Linked DNA regions of Homo sapiens: region 2 is linked to region 1. The links come from fine-mapping of genetic effects on gene expression. A gene starts in region 1. The other region holds a variant in brackets. All regions are shown on one strand. Distances are between the middles of the regions. Region 1 holds the start of SLC7A10 (solute carrier family 7 member 10). Region 2 overlaps WDR88 (WD repeat domain 88).

Region 1 (4,384 bases):
ATCACCACCACCACCACCACCACCACCACCACCACCACCACCACCACCAGGGCCCCTTTCTGGGGAGAAAGGAGCCAGGCAGCCTCCCTGTGGCCTGGGGAGGATGGGATGTGGGGAGGGGATAGAGTAGGAAGACAGGTCAAGGATGCTGGGCTTAGCTGAGGAGCCCAGGCAGAGCTGTGTCTTTCTGCACCTGCCTGGCACTGTAGCTGGTTCTAGGCATGGTCTCAATCCTATGACCCACTCATGGTGTGAGCTTCCCCTTCCCTGGAGGACAGTTCCTGGAGAGGGTGTGGGCCAAGAAAAAGCTCTAACCAGCACCCTGGCCAAATCCCTGGAACCAGCCCTTCCTTCCAGCAGACCGTCCATCAGGCAGGGGCATCCTAGGCCAAGAAGCTCCCAGGGCCAGGTCAGGACCAGGCTCTGGGAGACAGCATTCTAAGGGGAGGGGGTGAGATGGCGGAGTGACCTGGCCAGGGGCTGTGTTCAGGGGCAACTCTGGATGTGAAGAGCTGCTAATGTGGGGGTGGGAGAGGACGAGGTGAAGACCCTGGGTCTGCCCTACTGAGCCCCCAAACTTTCTCCATCTCCAGGGGTCTGAGGGTGGGAAGGCAGTGAAGACACAAGTGGCTCTCACTGGCAGGGGACCGGGAAGACTGGCTGGCGGTAAGGTGAGAACAGTCGAGGCCCCAGTCACTCACCCCCCAAACCACTTCTCCTGTCCCTCCCTGGAGGGGCTCAGAGGCACTCTGTGTAGACAAAGAAACAAGTCAGTATCCATGACTTGGGACAGAGAGTGGAAAAATACCACTGCCATTCCCATGACCTCTGAGCTCTCTGCCTGCCCAGAAACCCCTATGTGGGGGCAGGACATGGACCCATTCTCAGGTGGGGACTTTGGAGTCCAGGGCCTCCAGACCAGGCGAGTGTCCAGTGCCCACCAGGATCCCAGCTCAGGGAGCAGCTGGCCTTCTGCAGGCTGGGTCTGCCCACTGCTGCCCCCAATTGCTGGCTAACCCGCCCCCTCTCCTGGGTCCTGCTGCCAAACCCTGCAGTCATTGCCTGCTCTGAACCTCCGTCCCTTCTGCGCAGGCTGCGCTTGCTCACTCTGCTCATAGGCCCTCCTGCTTTCCAAGAATAAAGTCACTGCACTGCGTGGCACCTGGACCCTGCACACAGTAGGTACTCAGACTGACCCACAGTACAGAACTTGGGGAGCTCAGCCTGCCGCAGCCTGACCAGCCCCTACACTGGTCAAGTTCCTGCGCTAATCGCAGGACTGCAGTCATGGCCATTTCACAGATGAGGAAACTGAGGGTAACTGCCTTGCAAAAGCCCCGCAGCAAAATCGAGTCAGGAGGAAGAGTCCAGCGGTGGAGGGGACCCAAAACTCCCCCAGGTGCAGGCGGCCGGGAGGTGGGAACACGGAGCTTTGGCACCCTGGGCCAGCAGCCCCTGACCTCCCCGCGGTCATAGCGCTCTCTGAGGCCAGACTGCAGGTTCCCCAGGCAGACCCGTCCGAGCGCCCGGAGAGGGGACGCCCCTCGTTCGGAGCGGCTGCGCCCCTCATTCGGCCTCCGCCCGGCGCCCGCCCGCCTGGGTCCCGCTCACCGATGATGATGGTGCAGGCGCTCAGCAGCCCGATCTCCTTCTTGAGCGCCACCCGCTCCGAGGCGCCGGGGACGGTCCCTGGGACTGGGGAGGGCGAGGGCGCAGGCCTGGGGTTCCCGCGCCCGCTCGGCTGCTGCGTGTGGCCGGCCATGTCGCTGTCCCGCCGCGTCCCCGCTCCCTGCGCTGCCCCGTCTGTCCGGCCGGCCGCCCGTCGGTCCGTCGGTCCGTGAGCTCACGGCCCTCGCAGCCGGGACAGCGCCCACAGGCGGGCGCATGCGCTGGCTCCGGGCCCGGGACTGGGGGCCCCGGGCGGCGGGGGCCCGGGAGGGGCGGAAGGAGGGCCGGCCCACAGCCCCCTCCCCCACCTCCCTTAAAGGGAACGCCCCCTCCCCCAGTCCCGGCCTGGGAAGGAAGGAGAGGACTTGGGGCAGATCTAGGAAGGACTTCCCAGTTGGGCGAAGGAAGGGACCCTCCAGTTGCCTGAGTTACATCCATTCTTGGGGCCGGGTTGGGGAGCAGAGCTCCGAGACAAGACAATCCCTGCTCTCAGGGAGGCCGAGGGGGACGGCAAGAATAACAGCTGGCCGCGTGTGGGGATGCAGTGTGTGCTCCCTTTAGTACTCTATGCCTGCACGATGTGTGTGTGTGTGTGTGTGTGTGTGTGTGTGTGTGTGTGTGTGTAGGAGACAGCTCCCAGGGTGAGTCCATTCTACAGGTGGAAGTTGAAGCCCAGAGATCAGTAGCGATCGCCGAGCAAGTGCAGGGCTGAGACCAAACCCTTTCTCGTGCCTCCTGAGGCTCCCAGGCGGACAACCTCAGGAGGGGTGGGGGTTGAGGTCTGGAACTCCTCTGAGGGGTCTGGGTGTCCTATGCACCCTGGATCAAAGGCCTGAGGGTCGAGGTGAAGATCCCGGGGGCTCTCATCCTCATCACGGGGACCCAAGACCTGTGACGAGTCCTGGACACGGCTCGCCCACCCTACCAGGCTCTGGGCCACCTCTGGCCTGAGATCTTCACTACAGGCTCCTCGTCCCAGGTCAGAGTGAGGGCTCAGCGGACTAGAACTCGGGTCTCTGGTGCAGGTCCCGCGCGATCCAGCCCGGCTCAAGAAGGCCAGGCGACCTGGAATGCCCGGGAGACACGGAGAAGGAGGCTGTGGTCGCGGGAGAGGGTCGGGAGTGCGGGGATCCGAGGGAGGCTGCCTCCTCCCGGAAGCCGTCCGGACTGTGCAGCCGAGGCCGGCGGAAAAGATCCAGGGGGGCCGCGTCGGGGCCACCGGGGCGGCGGGCGGGGCGAGCCTGGCACTGTGCGGCCGGCGGCGGAACAGCCTTTGTTTCTTCCTGGCGGCCGCCGCGACGCGCCGTCCCCTGCATGTGGATGAGGCCTCGCCGGGCGCCCCGTCCTTCCCCCCAGTGGCGGCCTCCGGGTTTGCTGGGGCCCTGCCAGGGGTCCGACGGCTGCAGGGTGGACCGGGGTGGGACGGGGCGGGGGCGGGTCCCTGGCAGGGGCGGGTCCCTGGCAGCGGCAGGGCCTGGAGGTGGGAGCGGGGCGGGGCCGGCGTTTGCAGGCACACAGGAGCTTCGAAGTTGGGGGCGGGGACTTGGGGTAGGAGTAGGAGCGGGAGGATCCAGGGTGGACGTGCTGGTGGGACGCCGAGGGGGAGGCCACCCGGCGAAGCTGCATCCCTCTCGCTTCTGTCGTCGGAGACCGGCATTCTTGGCGCCCTCCACCTCCAGCCCCAGAGACCATTCAGAGGCCGACTCTCTTAAAGGAGCCTCGCGCAGGGTAGGGGCAGCCCTGGCTCCGGAGACCCCTGATTGTCGCGGGTGTTAGGGGCCAGAGGCCTCGACCTTCTGGTTTGACTCTCCCCAGCCCCCCAGTTGCCCTCGCAATTCTAGGGTCTGCTGGGAGAGGGTCTAGCCAGGGCTGGTGCAATCAGGGGCAGCTTGCCAAGGGGCAGGGGCTGGCGCAAGCCTCGCAGCTCTGAAGCCTGTGGTTTTCGAGGGTGTCTCTCTGGGACCTGGAATGTGGAGTATGCGTTTGTGGGGGAAAGGTCGGCCTAGGGCTTTGCACAGGATGGAGTTTGTATGTTGTCAGCCAGGCCCCATAGCTCAGGAGGTCCTTTTCGTGGAATTGAACTAGAACCTGCAAATTTCAATGGGAACAAAAGGTTAGTAGGATTGGTTTACCATCCAAAAACCAATCAGCATGATTCTCCACATTAATAGAGAGAAAAAAGGAAAACCTCAACAGATGCAAAAAACAGTCATCCGTGATGTAAACAAACAACTCTTAGCAAATAGAAACAGAAGAGAACCTCCTTAATCTGATAAAAGTATCTACCTAAAAACAAATCTCCAAGAAACCAAGAAACAAACAAAAACCCTACAGCTGACATCATGTTTAGTGGTGAAAGTGTGAATGCTTTTCTACTGAGATTGAAAATGAGAAGGGATGTTGGCACTTGTCAATATTCTATACAATAGTGTACTGGAGGTCCTAGCCAGAGCAATAAGACAAGAAAAATAAGTAAAAAGGTATGAAGATAGTAAAGGGAAAGATAAAGCTGCCATTCACATATGATGTGATTCAGTATGTAGAAAAAAAATTACAGGTTAATTTAAGGAAGATAAGTTCATTTAGCAAAGTCGCTAGACAGAAGTTTAATATACAGAAACTAATTGTATTCTATATACTAGAAATAATTAGAAAATGAAATTAATAATAGCATAAAATCAAATACCTAAAAATAATTCTAGTGAATGATGTGTAC
Region 2 (4,384 bases), 65 kb before region 1:
TTCAAGCGATTCTCCTGCTTCAGCCTTCCAAGTAGCTTGGATTACAGGTGCGCACTACCATGCCTGGCTAATTTTTGTATTTTTGGTAGAGATGGGGTTTCGCCATGTTGTCCAGGCTGGTCTTGAACTCCTGTCCTCATGTGATCTGCCTGCCTCAGCCTCCCAAAGTGCTGGGATTACAGACGTGAGCCACCACACCTGGGCTTTCTTTTGCTTTTTGTTAGTGATTTTGCTGTGTAAAATGGCTCCCTTGGCCGTGTGTGGTGGCTCACAGCTTTAATTTCAGTGCTGGGGGGGTGCTGAGGCGGGAGTATTGCTTGAACCCAGGAGTTTGAGATCAGCCTGGGCAACATAGTGAGACCCCATCTCTACCAAAACAAAAAAAAAAAATTTAGCCAGGTGTGCTGGCACCTGCTTGTAGTCCCAGCTACTTGGTAACTGAAGTGGGAGGATTGCTTGAGACCAGGAGTTTGAAGCTGCTGTGAGCTGATTGCATCACTGCACTCTAGCCTGGGTGACAGAGCAAGACCTTATCTCTAAAAATAAATAAATAAATAAATAAATAAATAAATAAATAAATAAATAAATAACAAATAAAATGATCCCTAACCACAGTGCCGAAGTGCTGTTTGCCGTTCCTAAGCGCGAGAGTGCTATGATGGGGAAAATGCATGCATCCATTCAGGCATGAGTTACAGCTGTTGGTTGTGAGTTCAATGTAAACAAATCAACAGTATATATGCAATAAGGTGTCTTTAAACAGAAACACACATAAAACAAAGTTACGTACTGATCAACTGATGAGAATGTGACCAGAGCTCGCAGGAAACTGACCCTGTATTTCCCCTAGGAGCGATGGTTCAGTATTCACTAATTCAGTGTCTGCAAAAACTGCAGAGGCCCCCAACCTTTCTGGCGCCAGGGACAGGTTTCATGGAAGACAACTTTTCCACAAATGGGAGCTGTGGAGGATGGTTTCGGGATGACCCAAGTGTATTACATTTATTGTGCCCTTTATTTTTATTATTATTACATTGTAATATATAGTGAAATAATTATACAAGTCAGCATCATGTAGAATCAGTGGGAGCCCTGAGCTTGTTTTCCTGCAACTAGATGGTCCCATCTGGGGGTGATGGGAGACAGTGACAGATCATCAGGCATTAGATTCTCATAAAGAGTGCACAACCTAATCCCTCGCATCCGCAGTTCACAATAGGGTTCATGCTCCCGTGAGAATCGAATGCTGCAGCTGATCTGACAGGAGGCCGAGCTCAGGTGGTAATACGAGCGATGGGGAGTGGCTGTAAATACAGATGAAGCTTTGGCTTGCTTGCCTACCACTCACTGTCTGCTGGGTGGCCTGGTTCCCAACAGGCCATGGATTGGTACCAGTCTGTGGCCCAGGGACTGGGGACCCCTGTCATAGAACATGACTACTGTAAATGATAAGAATCAGCTGTAATTGGCTTGGGGTCGTGGAGCCACTCCAGGAAGGGGTTTCAGTGTTGTCAGAGTGAGATGAGGTGGTGCCTCGCCAAGGCATCTTCAGCTGGCTTTGGGCTCACTTGGCTTGGAAAGTTGACCCCCATCTCCACCCTTTCATTTTCTGTTGCAGGCTCTTTTCTCATTTCTGGAGGGTTTGATAGGACTGTGGCTATTTGGGATGTAGCAGAAGGCTACCGGAAGCTCTCTTTGAAGGTACATGTGGCCAGCATGAGATTGAGGATCTGAACTTCCCTCCCGAGTCCTTCCTGTGCTCAATGCTGGTTGCTGGGGACACAGCTGTGAGTGACACAGGCCTTGATGCCTCTGTGGGCTGATGAAGGACAGACAGGAAGCCAGCAAACACACCACCGACTGTGAGGAGTGAAATGGAGAAACCACAACAGGGTGACATGATGGGGACAGAGGCGGGGGACCCATCCACATTGCATGGGCAGAGCTTCCTGGAGAAGGAGGTGTTTGAGCTGAGAACAGAAAGGACTACATAAGTGGGGATCTTGAAGAAGAAGGGCAGTCCAGGCAGATGGAACAGCTGATGCAAAAACCCTGAGGTGGGAGTGTCTAAGAACAGCAGAAGTTACTGTGCAGGCCTGGGCACTGTGGCTCACTCCTGTAATCCCAGTACTTTGGGAGGCTGAGGTGGGCGGATCACCTGAGGTCAGGAGTTTGAGACCAGCCTGGCCAACATGGTGAAACCCCCGTCTCTACTAAAAATACAAAAATCAGCCGGGTGTGGTGGTGCAAACCTGTAGTCCCAGCTACTTGGGAGGCTGAGGTGGGAGGATCGCTTGAACCCGGGAGGCGGAGGTTGCACTGGGCCAAGATTGTGCCACTGCACTCCAGCCTGGGCGATAGACTGAGATTCTGTCTCTAACAAAACAAAACAAAACAAAAAACAGAAATTACCTTGAAGAGAGACGCATGCCCTAGTGAGGCATGCACAGAAAGCTTGGGGTTCCAAAATGGGGATGTCAACTGAATGCTCTGGGCTACAAGTGAGAGGATGAGAGGAGCCCCAACTCAGAGTGGCTCTATGATACGGGGATGTGTTATCCAACACAGCAAGAACCCACAATTGCCTCATGCTGTGCCCCTGTTCCCCCAAGGGGCCCCACACCCCAGGATTTCTGCATACTCCCTGGTTTCAC[G/A]ATCTCACTGTCACCTTTGGCTGTGAATGCGTGCATCCCTGATTCTTGGTCTTTCTGTTCCCAGGGACACAAAGTAGACATGTGTCCTTGAGCAGCCCATATTCAGGTCCCTGGGGCTGGTCTATCTGAGCTGTCTTCTCCTAGGACTTGGGGAGACAAAGCGAGTTTCCTCACAGCAAATAAACGGATTAAAATGGAATGTTAAACCTCTCTGTGCTTAAAGTCCCTCTGTCATCTAGGCACAGTGGCTCATGCCTGTAATCCCAGCACTTTGGGAGGCTGAGGCTGGAGGATCATTGGAGGTCAGGAGTTCGAGACCAGCCTGGCCAACATAGTGAAACACCATCTCTACTAAAAATACAAAAATTAGCCAGGTGTGGTCATGCCCACCTGTAGTCCCAGCTACTTGGGAGGCTGAGGCATAAGAATCTCTAGAGCCTGGGAGGCAGAGGCTGCAGTGAGCTGAGATTGCACCACTGGACTCCAGCCTGGGTGACAGAGCCGGTTGTTCTATTCTCTCTCCTCTTCTCTCCTCTTTCTCTGTGCTCCCATCCTCAAATTCCTGTCCTTTAATTACACTAAGCGGTTTAACCTTCCCTCTGATTCCTTTTTCTCTAACCACACTATGGCCTCACTTTCTGCCTCTTTCCATACGGGGAAGGCCAAAGAAGGACAGAGATGCTGGCATAAAGCCCAGACATCATTCAGTGTCTGAGGCAGCAATGGCAGCTATCTGCTCTGAGCTGTTTTTTTTGTTTGTTTTTTTTTGAGACGGGAGTCTCGCTCTGTCGCCCAGGCTAGAGTGCAGTGGCATGATCTTGGCTCACTGCAAGTTCCGCCTCCTGGGTTCACACCATTCTCCTACCTCAGCCTCCTGAGTAGCTGGGACTACAGGTGCCCACCACCATGCCCGGCTAATTTTTTTTTTTTAAATTTTTATTTTTTAGTAGAGATGGTGTTTCACCATGTTAGCCAGGCTGGTCTCGATCTCCTGACCTCGTGATCTATCCGCCTCGGCCTCCCAAAGTGCTGGCATTACAGGCATGGAGCACCGCGCCCGGCCTGCTCTGAGCTCCTATGTACCCAAAGAAAACACCCCACTCCTTCTCTGCTTAAGCCACAGTGGATCGAGTTTGCAGTTATTGGAAGCGAAAAGCCCCCTCACTTACAGGGCCTCTGAGGGGTATTTCCTAGAACAAAGAATGCAAATGAAAACCTGAGACCAGCTGGGAATATAATATTTCTCCCCCAATCTTGCTAAACACCCGAGTACTATTTTAAAAAACCATACACAGTGGCACACACATTTGTAGTCCCAGCTACTCGGGAGGCTGAGGCAGGAGAATCACTTGAGCCCAGGAGGTTGAGGCTGCAGTGAGCTATGATTGAGCTGCTACACTCCAGCCTGGGGGACAGAGTAAGACCCTGTGTCAAATAAAAATAACTAAATAAATAAATATAGAATGGGTAGGGCGCAGTGGCTCATGCCTGTAATCCCAGCACTTTGTGAGGCTGAGGCAGGTGGATCACTTGAGGTCAGGAGTTCGAGACCAGCCTGGCCAACATGGTGAAACTCCATCTCTATTAAAAATACAAACATTAGGTGGGGTGTGGTGGCTCACGCCTGTAATCCCAGCACTTTGGGAGGCCGAGGCAGGCAGATCACGAAGTCAGAAGATCGAGACCATCCTGGCTAACACAGTGAAACCCCGTCTCTACTAAAAATACAA

What was found. PIP is the estimated chance that this variant, and not a neighbour inherited with it, causes the effect. A credible set is the group of variants that fine-mapping cannot tell apart.
Region 2: its variant is the best candidate, but not a certain one, in a credible set for the expression of SLC7A10 in whole blood (TOPMed, PIP 0.53).

What each region holds. Positions count from the first base shown.
Region 1 is chr19:33,223,942-33,228,325 of GRCh38, forward strand. SLC7A10 (solute carrier family 7 member 10) reads right to left here and starts at 1,909. Exons shown (of 11, transcript NM_019849.3): 1 at 1,612-1,909. The coding sequence starts at 1,762.
Region 2 is chr19:33,158,796-33,163,179 of GRCh38, forward strand. It overlaps WDR88 (WD repeat domain 88), which reads left to right. Exons shown (of 11, transcript NM_173479.4): 8 at 1,619-1,701. LOC124904691 (a long non-coding RNA gene) reads right to left here. Exons shown (of 2, transcript XR_007067228.1): 2 at 976-1,860. Among named protein-coding and RNA genes, the nearest start is that of TRT-AGT1-3, 16 kb to the right of the region's middle. RefSeq lists enhancers at 1,708-2,117, 2,461-2,630 and a cis regulatory region at 2,546. The variant G/A (reference allele first, on the strand shown) is at 2,655.